Linked DNA regions of Homo sapiens: region 1 is linked to region 2. Evidence: fine-mapped expression QTL. Tissue or cell type: monocytes. Region 2 holds a variant in brackets; the other region holds the start of a gene. All regions are shown on one strand. Distances are between the middles of the regions.

Region 1 (5,000 bases), 48 kb before region 2:
AGAAATACCCTGAGATAGGATAGCTGTTATCTCCATGTGGGGAAACTGTGGCTATCAGATAGGTTATAGAAATGGTCCAAGACCTCACTGGGCAGAATCTAGGTCTTCCTGCTGCTGTATCACACTATGCATTTCAATCAAAAATTTACTAAGCCTCAAGTGTTGTGCTGTGGTGAACAGGAGCTGGGGAAGGAATATTTAGAAATGGCATACCCAGGGCCGGGCGCGGTGGCTCACGCCTGTAATCCCAGCACTTTAGGAGGCTGAAGCGGGAGAATCACGAGGTCAGGAAATCGAGACCATCCTGGCTAACACGGTGAGACCTCGTCTCTACTAAAAATACAAAAAAATTAGCCGGGCGTGGTGGCGGGCGCCTGTAGTCCCAGCTACTGGGGAGGCTGAGGCAGGAGAATGGCGTGAACCCAGGAGGCAGAGCTTGCAGTGAGCCGAGATCGTGTCACTGCACTCCAGCCCGGGCGACAGAGCGTGACTCCGTCTCAAAAAAAAAAAAAAAAAAAAAAAAAAAAGAAAAGGCATACCCAGCGCTGTGAGATCCTGGGGGATCTGGCCTCAGCCTACCCTCCCTCCTTACTCTACCCACTTCTTGGCCAATCTCAGACTCTCCCTTAGCTTCAGCCACCACTCGGACCACAGATTAGCCAGCTTGTGACTCTCCAAGCTGTATCTCCAGCCCCGACAACTCCCTCGAACTCCAAAATTATAGACCCAAGTGCCTTCTGCACACTTTCCATCTGGGGGTCTCCCAGCATTGCCAGACTAGGTTCAAAGCTAGACCCCCTCCTCCCCAACACCTGCTCAGCATCCTGCATCCCTGTCTCAGGTGGTGGTTCCCACCTAATCACCTAGGTGTCATCCTTAGTGTCTCTCTCCTCCACCCAAACAGCCAATCAATTGCCAAGTCCTATACATTTTCCTCCTAAATATTCCTCAGATCCAGCCCTTCCCCTTCCTCCTCATATCTTGTGTCCCAGCTCAGGCTATAATCCCTCGATAACAACCTCCTTCCAGCCTCCTTGTCCCCAGTCTTATCTCCCATGCATCCATCATCCCAGCAGCCTATCTGTACAGGTTCCTCCCTGCCTCAAACCCCTTCTGTGATTCCTCTGTCTGAAGGGATGAAGTCCAAGTTCCTTAATAAGTCTCCCTTTGATATGGCCTTTCCACCCTTACAGCCTCTCCTCTAGCCACTCGCTGCCTCAAACCATCTACGGTATAGAGGTTGGCCTGCCCGCGGAGCCGACTTCATCTTGAAATTCTTCATCATTTTGTAACAAGCAGCTGTGCATTTCCATTTTGCACTGGACCTCACAAATTACGTTGCCCGTCCTGCCTGCCTGTTGTTGCTTGCACCCCTCTTGCAGTTTGTGGCCACCTAAGCTTTGTCTGTGTAGTCTCCTCCACCTAAAACTCCTCTTCCCACATCACCCAGCTATCTTCAGCTCTTCGTTTAGACTCAATGTAGGTGTTCTCTTTGGGACGTCTCACCGACTCTCTTCCTTCCCCTTCCCTGCCCTAATCGCCCAACACGTTGCAGGTGCTCAACCATGTCTATTAGAGAAACTGAATGAGGAGGCAAAGCATGACAAGTGCCACAAGAGACCTGCACACTGCTCTGGATGGTAAAGCGACGCAAGGAGGGAAGAAGGTATTTGCAACGGCCTCCCAGATCGGCGCTAGGACCCCGCCAGCAGACGTCTCAATCTGCGTGGAGAAGACCCAGTGCCCGCCAGGGGAAGCGGCTGCCAGGCTGGGCTCTCGAGCGCCGCCTGTCGCAATCCCACGGCCGCTGCAGCGCACCCCCTCCCGTCCCCTGCCCTGAGCCCGCCTCGCGTCTCCAATTGGCTGTCTCCATTCTCCCGCCCCTCCCGAGCTCAGCCATTCGGAGCCTGGGGTGGGCGGGGCTTGAGGCCTGAGTGGAGCGTAAACCCTGATTGGCTGTACGGAAGGCGGCGACGTGGCCGAAGGATGCCCGTTTGTGTCTAAACGGAGGCTCGGCCACAACGCCACTGGATTGGTGGTAGGGCGGGGCGGGCCACAGTCTCCAGCCTGAAGCGGAAGTGGAGGAAAGATGGAGGTGTGGGGACAGGAGCTGGGTGTGCTGGGGACTGGCCGCGGACCCCTAACCTGTGTCTCCGGTCTCCCTCCGGAAGCGGCTCAACCCAGCCCATCGCTCTGGCCCCGTTCTGGCCCTGCAGGGTGGTGGTTGGGACGTTGAAATGAGCGCGCGAGTGGTACGTCCTCTCTCCGCGCTCACGCCCCCCTCCTCACCGTGTTTCCCGCCAGGACCATCAGCACGTGCCCATCGACATCCAGACCAGCAAGCTGCTCGGTAGGAGGGGGCGCCACCGCGCAGCTGGCTGTCGGGGGGAGGCCTGTGCGTTGCCCCCTGTGTCCAATAGCCGGGAGCTCTGACCCCTGAAAGCCTGAGTCGAGATGCTGACCACTGGCCTCGTTCTATGCCCCATCTGTGGCCAGACCTGCTTCCCTGATAGCAGCGGGAACGAACCATATGTACAGTCTGTTTGACCTGCGTTTTCTCCTTTAATAACATATGTTATCGTATCATTCAGGGACAGGATAAATGACTCGCTTTAAAAACAGTCAACCACTGCCGGGCGCGGTGGCTCATGCCTGTAATCCCAGCACTTTGGGAGGCCGAGGTGGGCGAATCACCTGAGGTCAGGAGTTCGAGACCAGCCTGACCAACATGGAGAAACCTTGTCTCCATGTCTCCATGACTAAAAATACAAAAAAATAAAAATAAAAAGTAGCCGGGCATGGGAGCACATGCCTGTAATCCCAGCTACTCGGGAGGCTGAGGTGGGAGAATTGCTTGAACCCCGGAGGCAGAGGTTGCGGTGAGCAGAGATCTCACTATTGCACTCCAGCCTGGGCAACGAGAGCGAAACTCCATCTCAAAAAGAAGACAAAAAACAGTCAACCACTAAGTGGCACATCTGAATTGGAACTTAAGTCTGTCTGACCCACTGTCCATGCCTTTTGCATTATGCCAGGAAAAAAAAAAAAAACCTCATTTAAAAAGCTTCCACCTCCCCCTTGATTTTAGGAGGAAGAGGGACCTAAGACCCAGTTGCAAATGAAAACCTTTTAGTGTCCAGGCCATCTCCAGGTTGTCTGTATGGGGCTTACATACTTCCTCCCCAGTTCATAGTCAGGGAAGGCCTCTTCATCTGATCACACAGCTCCTGGCATTTTAAAATGCTTATTGGATTCATGGATTTGATGCCAATCTTGTCCTTAAGATGGTGTCTGTTTGACTACCCCAGTCCGTTGCTTCTAGTTCTGTGACATCAACAGAATTTTTCTTTCTGAAAACTTTACAGGAATATAGCAGAGAGAGTATAACTGATACTAGTGTGGGACCCCAGCGTTTGACCGGTTGGCAGAGTTCAAGTTCTGAATTCACCACTCTGTAGTGCCATTTAGTCAGTCCTGCTTGGTGGTCACGGGGGAAGCTTCTTTAGCCTCCCTTCAGATTTGTACTGGCCCTTCAGCCCATGTGCAGTCTTGGTGTGTGAGCTTGTTCTTGGTCATGAAAAGGACCAATAAAATGACCACCATTCATTGAGGGTTTTTTTTTGTACCAGGTGCTGTTTTAGGCACTTGACATGATAAAAATGATCACTGTCATTTTTTGAGTCCTTGCCGTGTCTCAGGCACACTGTTCAGTGTTTTACCTGCATTCCCTTTTCTAGTCAGTGTCTTATTATTCCCCATTTTACATGTGGGAAAACTGAGGCACAGAATAGTAGACTTGCTCAAGAAACTTGATAACGAGAACCCAGGACCATCTGACCACAAAGCTCAGCTCTTAGCTCTCACTGAGGAAATATGCATGGCTCTGAAGCCACAAATCTGGGCCCAGACTTTGAGAGGTCAGTCCCATTGGTATTCACATGTACAGGGTGGTACTTCACTGTTCACAACAGAGTCATGTTATCTAGTCCTTAGGGCGCTGTAGGTATTAGGGGCTTTGCAGCTGTTCATTCATCCAGTACTTGGCATAACCATCTTGTATTTTCCATTGTCATGGTTAACCCCAGCCCTGAGGAAATGGAAGTTGAGCAGCATCCTCTTGTCAGGAAGAAAGATATAATTACCCATAGAAGCAAAAATATTATGGGGAATTGAGAATGGTCAAAAGTGGCACTTTCAGGACCAATTTAAACTTTTTGTTATCCCTGTGTTGAGGCAATTGCTCTATAAAAATCACACTGCTAATGAAGTCAGATTGTCAGAGCCTGGTTTAGCCCCAGGCATCTCTTTGGGCTTGTCTTTATTCCCATCTTCCCATGACCCCCATACTTTAACCAATGTAAAGAAAACTTTTAGACTAATTTCAGTGTATTTCACTCGAATTAGTGATGGAATTTTGGTGATGTGAATGGGAATGCTCTAATTTGGGTGCTTCTCATGTAGATTGGCTGGTGGACAGAAGGCACTGCAGCCTGAAATGGCAGAGTCTGGTGCTGACGATCCGCGAGAAGATCAATGCTGCCATCCAGGACATGCCAGAGAGCGAAGAGATCGCCCAGCTGCTGTCTGGGTCCTGTGAGTGCTTAGGGGCTGTCACTGGAGTCCCCTCTTTGCTGAGGTAGTATGTATCAGCTGAGCTACTCTCTTGTTATTTAGCCACCAGGGCTGGCCTTTAGAGAGGGAGCGATTTTTATTTGAGGTATAGATGCTGGCTTCTTCCACTATGAAATGATTTAGGGAAAAGCTACACACTAAAGTTACTGGCAGTATATTATACATGAATCAGCCACCTGCAGTGCCCAGAGTAGGTGAAGAAGATACTTTAGTTCTCGAAATCCCGTCTCTTGCTTTCTAGACATTCACTACTTTCACTGCCTAAGAATCCTGGACCTTCTCAAAGGCACAGAGGCCTCCACGAAGAATATTTTTGGCCGATACTCTTCACAGCGGATGAAGGCAAGTGTGGGCCAAGGGCCGGTAGT
Region 2 (5,867 bases):
AGGCCCACTGGGTCCAGGATAGTGCCCTACAAGGAGACCTTTCTTCAAAATGAAATCCATACCTGGGTTCAGGCCGCATTGCTTCTGCTCCCAGCACCCGAGAGCATCCTCAATCACCTCACAAGTGGGAATGACAACGCCTGCCTCCTTCACTGAGATAGAGGTACAAAAAAATTACATGTGTGAAAGAAATAGAATACTTTTACGGATCCTGACAAATGTGAGTTTACATAAATCCTATTAAAAGAACATTGTGCAAGAAGCTTTTCTGTGTCTTGTATATAAATTATCCTCAGAAAAGAAGTGCAGCTGATGGGACTCACTTATTAATTTCATTATTTAAAAAACAGACGTGCTGGGCGTGGTGGCTTATGTCGGTAATCCCAGCACTTTGGGAGGCCAAGGCGGGAGGATCACTTGAGGTCAGGAGTTTGAGACTAGCCTGGCCAATATGGTGAAACCCTGTCTCTACTAAAAATACAAAAATTAGCTGGGCATGGTGTTGTGTGCCTCTAGTCCCAGCTACTTGGGAGGTTGAAGCACGAGAATCACTTGAACCCAGGAGGCACATGCAGCAGTGAGTCAGGATGGCGCCACTTACTCCAGCCTGGGCGACAGAGCAAGATTCTGTCTCAATAAATAAATAAATAAATAAATAAATAAATAAATAAATAAATAAAATAAAAATTAGAAAACGCTATTGGAGCCAGCCATGGTGGCTCCCAGCACTTTGGGAGGCCGAGGTGGGCAGATTGCTTGAGCTCAGGAGTTCGAGACCAGCCTGGGCAACATGGTGAAACCCCGTCTCTACTAAAAATACAAAAATTAACCAGGCATGGTGGCAGGTGCCTGTAATCCCAGCTACTCAAGAGGCTGAGGCAGGAGAATTACTTGAACCTGGGAGGTGGAGGTTGCAGTGAGCAGAGACTGTGCCACTGTACACTAGCCTGGGTGATAGAGTGAGACTGTTAAAAAAAAAAAAAGCATGCAAAGAAAAATGTGCATTGGGGTTTTGAGTCAAGAGCCCTGCTATTTTTTCTTACTGCCCAGGAAGGCACTCCTTGTCAAGGGAATTCTATTTATAAACGTTATATTCTCATGATCTGCAGAAAACACAGGGCAGAAAGAGGAAGAGGTAAGAGGGTTCCAGGAAACCCTCTTTCTTGTCTCAGTTCTGTCCCTTGTTAGCTGTGTGACATTGGGTAAGTCAACCTTTGAGTTTCACTTTCCTAATCTGAAGGCCTCTAGCTTGCTCTCCCAGAAAGATCCACTTTTTTTTTTCTACCTTAGAGTATAAACTTCAGTCAGTGCCCAAGCCCCTCAGACCCCTTCCTCAACCTCCCAGCTACCTTGGGGAATGGGTCCAAATCTCCAGAGTTGGAGGAAAAGGTCTGTATTTGTTTTCTGTTTGTTTGTTTGAGACAGAGTCTCACTCCATCACCCAGGCTGTAGTGCAGTGGCGCAGTCTCGGCTCACTGCAACCTCCATCTCTTGGGTTCAAGCAATTCTCCTGCCTCACCCTCCCGAGTAGCTGGGATTACAGGCATGTGTCACCATGCCCAGCTAATTTTTGTATTTTTAGTAGAAACAGGGTTTCACCATGTTGGCCATGTTGGTCTCGAACTCCTGACCTAAAGTGATCTGCCCACCTCGGCCTCCCAAAGTGCTGGGATTACAGGAGCGAGACACCATGCCCAGCCAGGTCTGTATTTCTTGACAGTGTTTCTTGATCAGAGGCCCTGTTTTCTCAGGACAATTGCTGTCCCAGGTGCCCAGGGTCTCTCACCTTCGTGTTCCCATGGAGGTGCTCACAGCTCTGATGTGGGAACCCCCAAGGTTCTCCTCTGTGGTCTAGGGAGTATCTAGGAATGGACTGCAATGCTCAGCACTGTGAGATAACTCCTGCCCAATAGAGAGTAGAGATGCCCTCTAGGTCTGGTTCCTGCAAGCCTTTTCATAGTCCCGTCACTGATCCCGGCCAGGCTAAGGATGAAAGAGGGGCTTGTCTTACAGCACCATCTTCTGGGCAAACCTGTGAGAGCTACTTCTTCTTGCTGCCATCTGGAGAACACTGAGATTTTGGGGGACTTTGGGTCCCAGAAGTTTTGTTTGTTTGTTTGTTTGAGATGGAGTCTCGCTCTGTCACCCAGGGCTGGAGTGCAGTGGTGCGATCTTGGCTCACTGCAACTTCCATCTCCCGGGTTCAAGCGATTCTCCTGCCTCAGCCTCTGAGTAGCTGGGACCAGAGGCGCACGTCACTATGCCCAGCTAATTTTTGTATTTTTAGTAGAGACGGGGTTTCACCATGTTGGTCAGGCTTGTCTCAAACTTCTGACCTCGTGATCTGCCCACCTCGGCCTCCCAAAGTGCTGGGATTACAGGTGTGAGCCACCACGCCCGGCCGATTCCAGAAGTTTTTATCTTACCTGTTTCCCCAAGATAAATTAATTCTGGACTTTTCCAGCCATCTCTTAGGAGAGGATGTTCCAAGAGCCCTCCAACCTTCCAAACACAAGGCTGCTAGGAATGGTAAGCAGCTGAAACCAGTCTTCCAATCATTCCACCCAGAACCTGAGTCCTCACCTACTCACCCCATATATCCCCACCCCAGAACACCCTGTCACTCACTAAGAAGCTGTTGTCTGGAAGCAAGGTTATAGCCTCATCACTTCCAGAGTTTTCTTCTATCCTCAAGTTTATTTGTTTGTTTGTTTCAGATGAGGGCTCACTGGCAGCCATGAGAGTAAAACACATATTTTCAATCTCTTAAAAATCAGGTGTCTGGATTGGCTGTGATGGCTCATGCCTGTAATCCCAGCACTTTGGGAGGCTGACTTGGGTGGATCGCTTGAGTCCAGGAGTTCAAGACCAGCCTGGGCAACATGGCAAAATCCTGTCTCTACAATAAACAAAAAATTAGCCGGGTGTGGTGGCATGTGCCTGTAGTCCCAGCTACCTGGAGGTTGAGGCTGCAGTGAGCCATGATCACGCCACTGTACTCCAACCTAGGCGACAGAGCAAAACTCTGTCCCTTAGGAAAAAAAAAAAAGGCTAGGCATGGCGGCTCAATCCTGTAATCCCAGCACTTTGGGAGGCTGAGGCAGGAGGATCACTTGAGCCCAGGAGTTTGAGAACAGCCTGGACAACAAAGTGAGACCCCCATCTCCCTAC[CA/C]AAAAAAAAAAAGCAAAAAAAAAAAAAGCAAGGTGTCGTGGTGTGCACCTATAGTCCAAGCTACATGGGAAGCTGAAGTAGGAGGATCACTTCTCCCCAGGAAATCAAGGCTGCAGTGAACCGTATTCATGCCACTGCACTCCAGGCTGGGTGACAGAGCAAGACCCAGTCTCAAAAAAAAAAAAAAAAAATCAGATGTCTAGACAAAGAGAAATTGTGGATCTGGTCAAATGGAATCAGATCCCTCTTGCTACTTCTTTTTCTTTCATTTGAAGTGTATGTGTCTATTTTCAGAGTGGGGTACGTGAGAGTGATAAGAGGGCACTAAATATATAAGATATAAAGTAGACTTGTGTTTTTTTTTGTTTGTTTGTTTTTTGTTTTTTTGAGACGGAGTTTCGCTCTTGTTGCCCAGGCTGGAGTGCAATGGTGCAATCTCAGCTCACTGAAACCTCCACCTCCCGGGTTCAAGCAATTCTCCTGCCTCAGCCTCCCGAGTAGCTGGAATTACAGGCACCTGCCACCATGCCTGGCTAATTTTTTTTTTTTTTTTTTTTGTATTTTTAGTAGAGACGGGGGTTTCACCATCTTGGCCAGGCTGGTCTTGAACTCCTGACCTTGTGATCCACCTGCCTTGGCCTCCCAAAGTGCTGGGATCACAGGCATGAGCCACCGTGCCCGGCCGACTTGTTATTTTTAAACATACTTTTCAGAACCTAAATATTCAGATCATTGTCCCTGACAAAATGGTCCTTTTGGAGGGCCTTTTTTGGAATGATTGCCTGCAATTATCTGAATTAATTCAAGCACCAACTCTTCAAATTCTGAGAGTGGACTTGATTTTTGCAAGCTGCTTGGTGAGTAAGATCAGCAATCAAGCTGGGTGGTACTGTTTTAGATCAAGAATGAGAAGTGACTGTAATGAAAATATTTCGTTTTGGGGGTCATAAATTGACCCTGAATTCCTGTTCTCTTCTTTAACCCAGGTTCCATGTTGCTAGCAGAGTTCCTCCCTCAAAACATAGAGCTGATATCACTTAACAGCTTGAAAATCTTCAGTGGTTCCCTATTACCTTCAGAACACAGGCCAAGTTCTTTACTGACTTTTTGTTTTGTTTTGTTTTGTTTTTTTGAGATGGAGTTTCGTTCTTGTTGCCCAGGCTGAAGTGTAATGGCACGATCTTGGCTCACCGAAACCTCTGCCTCCTGGGTTCAAGCGATTCTCCTGCCTCAGCCTCCCGAGTAGCTGGGATTACAGGCATGCACCACCACACCCTGCTAATTTTGTATTTTTAGTAGAGACAGGGTTTCTCCATGTTGGTCGGGCTGGTCTCGATCTCAGGTGATCCACCCACCTTGTCCTCCCAAAGTACTGGGATTACAGGTGTGAGCCATGGCGACTGGCCACAAGCCAAGTTCTTTAGCTCTGTGGTTGGGGTAAAGAAGAGCCAGCAATGGAGTCAGACCAGAATGGGTTTAAATCCCACCTATGAGCTCTGAGGCAAGTTATTCAGTCTCTCAGACTCTCAGCTCTCTCATTTGTAAAAAGAAGGCTAACGGGCCAGGCGCGGTATACCCAACACTTTGGGAGGCCAAAGTGGACAGATCGCTTGAGCTCAGGAGTTTGAGACCAGCCTGGGCAACATGGTGAGACCTCGTGTCTATTAAAAAATTTTTAAAAATTAGCTGGGTGTGGTGGTACATGCCTGTGGTCCCAGCTACTCGGGGGACTGAGGTAAGAGGATAGCTTGAGCCCCGGAGGTTGAGGCTGCAGCGAGCCTATCAATACCTACTTTGTTAGGTTGTTTTGAGGACAATGGTAATTTTAAGGTGTATATAGTAGCAAACTCAATAAATAGCAGTCATTCTTCAGCATGGCATTCATTGCTCACTGCGACCCAGTTGCAACCTATCTAGAAGAAACCTCAGATCTCAACACACTCCCTGCAGACACACACCATTCCAGTTACATTTGCCTACTGAAATTCCTTAAACAATACAGAGATTTTTTTTCTTTTTCTTTTTTTTTTTTTTTTTTTTTTTTTTAGACAGGGTCTTGCTCTGTCCTCCAGGCTGGAGTGCAGTGGCATGATCTCAGCTCACAGCAGCCTCAGCCTCCTGGACTCAAGTGATCCTTCCACCTCAGCCCACGGTGCCCCCTCTCCCCCCAGTAGCTGGGACTACAGGCACACACCACTACACCCAGCTAATTTTTTTTTTTTTTGTAGAGGCAGGGTTTTGCCATGTTGCCCAGGCTGGTCTCGAACTCCCAGACTCAAGCAACCTGCCTGTCTCACCCTTCCTAAGTGCTGAGATTACAGGCATGAGCCACTGCGCCCAGCCTAAACGGAGATTCCTTACCTCTGGCCTTGCTTATGTTGTTGCTCCCTTTGGGGTGTCTCTTTCCCCATCTTCCTTCTTTACATGTTATGTAATACACCGTTTCCTCTGTGAATATTTATCATTTCCTTATCTGCATACATGACTTTGTCCCCAGCCAAATTGTAATCTCCTTGAGTCAGGAACTGTGTTTCCCAATTCATTTTAGAAGCTCCCAACAATCCCCAGCAAGGTACCTGGCCTGGAAACAGCCTGTTAGTAAATGTCTGTTGAACGAATTCATTCCAAAAGAGTTTATTTTATTATTATTATTAACGTTGCTTTTCTTACCAAAGGGTGCATTTTGAGGAATGGC

Alleles and levels. Positions count from the first base shown, and alleles are read on the strand shown. Sizes are in standard deviations (SD) of each study's normalised expression.
With allele C in place of CA in region 2, the expression in monocytes of the gene that starts at base 2,056 in region 1 is lower (small effect, 0.38 SD a copy in Fairfax 2014).

Evidence for each region. PIP is the estimated chance that this variant, and not a neighbour inherited with it, causes the effect.
Region 1: CDK5RAP3 starts here. The variant in region 2 is fine-mapped to the expression of CDK5RAP3 in monocytes (Fairfax 2014, PIP 0.95).

Annotation. Positions count from the first base shown.
Region 1 is chr17:47,969,058-47,974,057 of GRCh38, forward strand. It overlaps CDK5RAP3 (CDK5 regulatory subunit associated protein 3), which reads left to right and starts at 2,056. Exons shown (of 14, transcript NM_176096.3): 1 at 2,056-2,095; 2 at 2,305-2,350; 3 at 4,462-4,593; 4 at 4,874-4,974. The coding sequence starts at 2,090. RefSeq lists a silencer at 1,707-1,996 and an enhancer at 2,418-3,045.
Region 2 is chr17:48,016,512-48,022,378 of GRCh38, forward strand. No RefSeq gene overlaps it. Among named protein-coding and RNA genes, the nearest start is that of MIR10226, 13 kb to the right of the region's middle. RefSeq lists an enhancer at 1,193-1,292. The variant CA/C (reference allele first, on the strand shown) is at 3,172.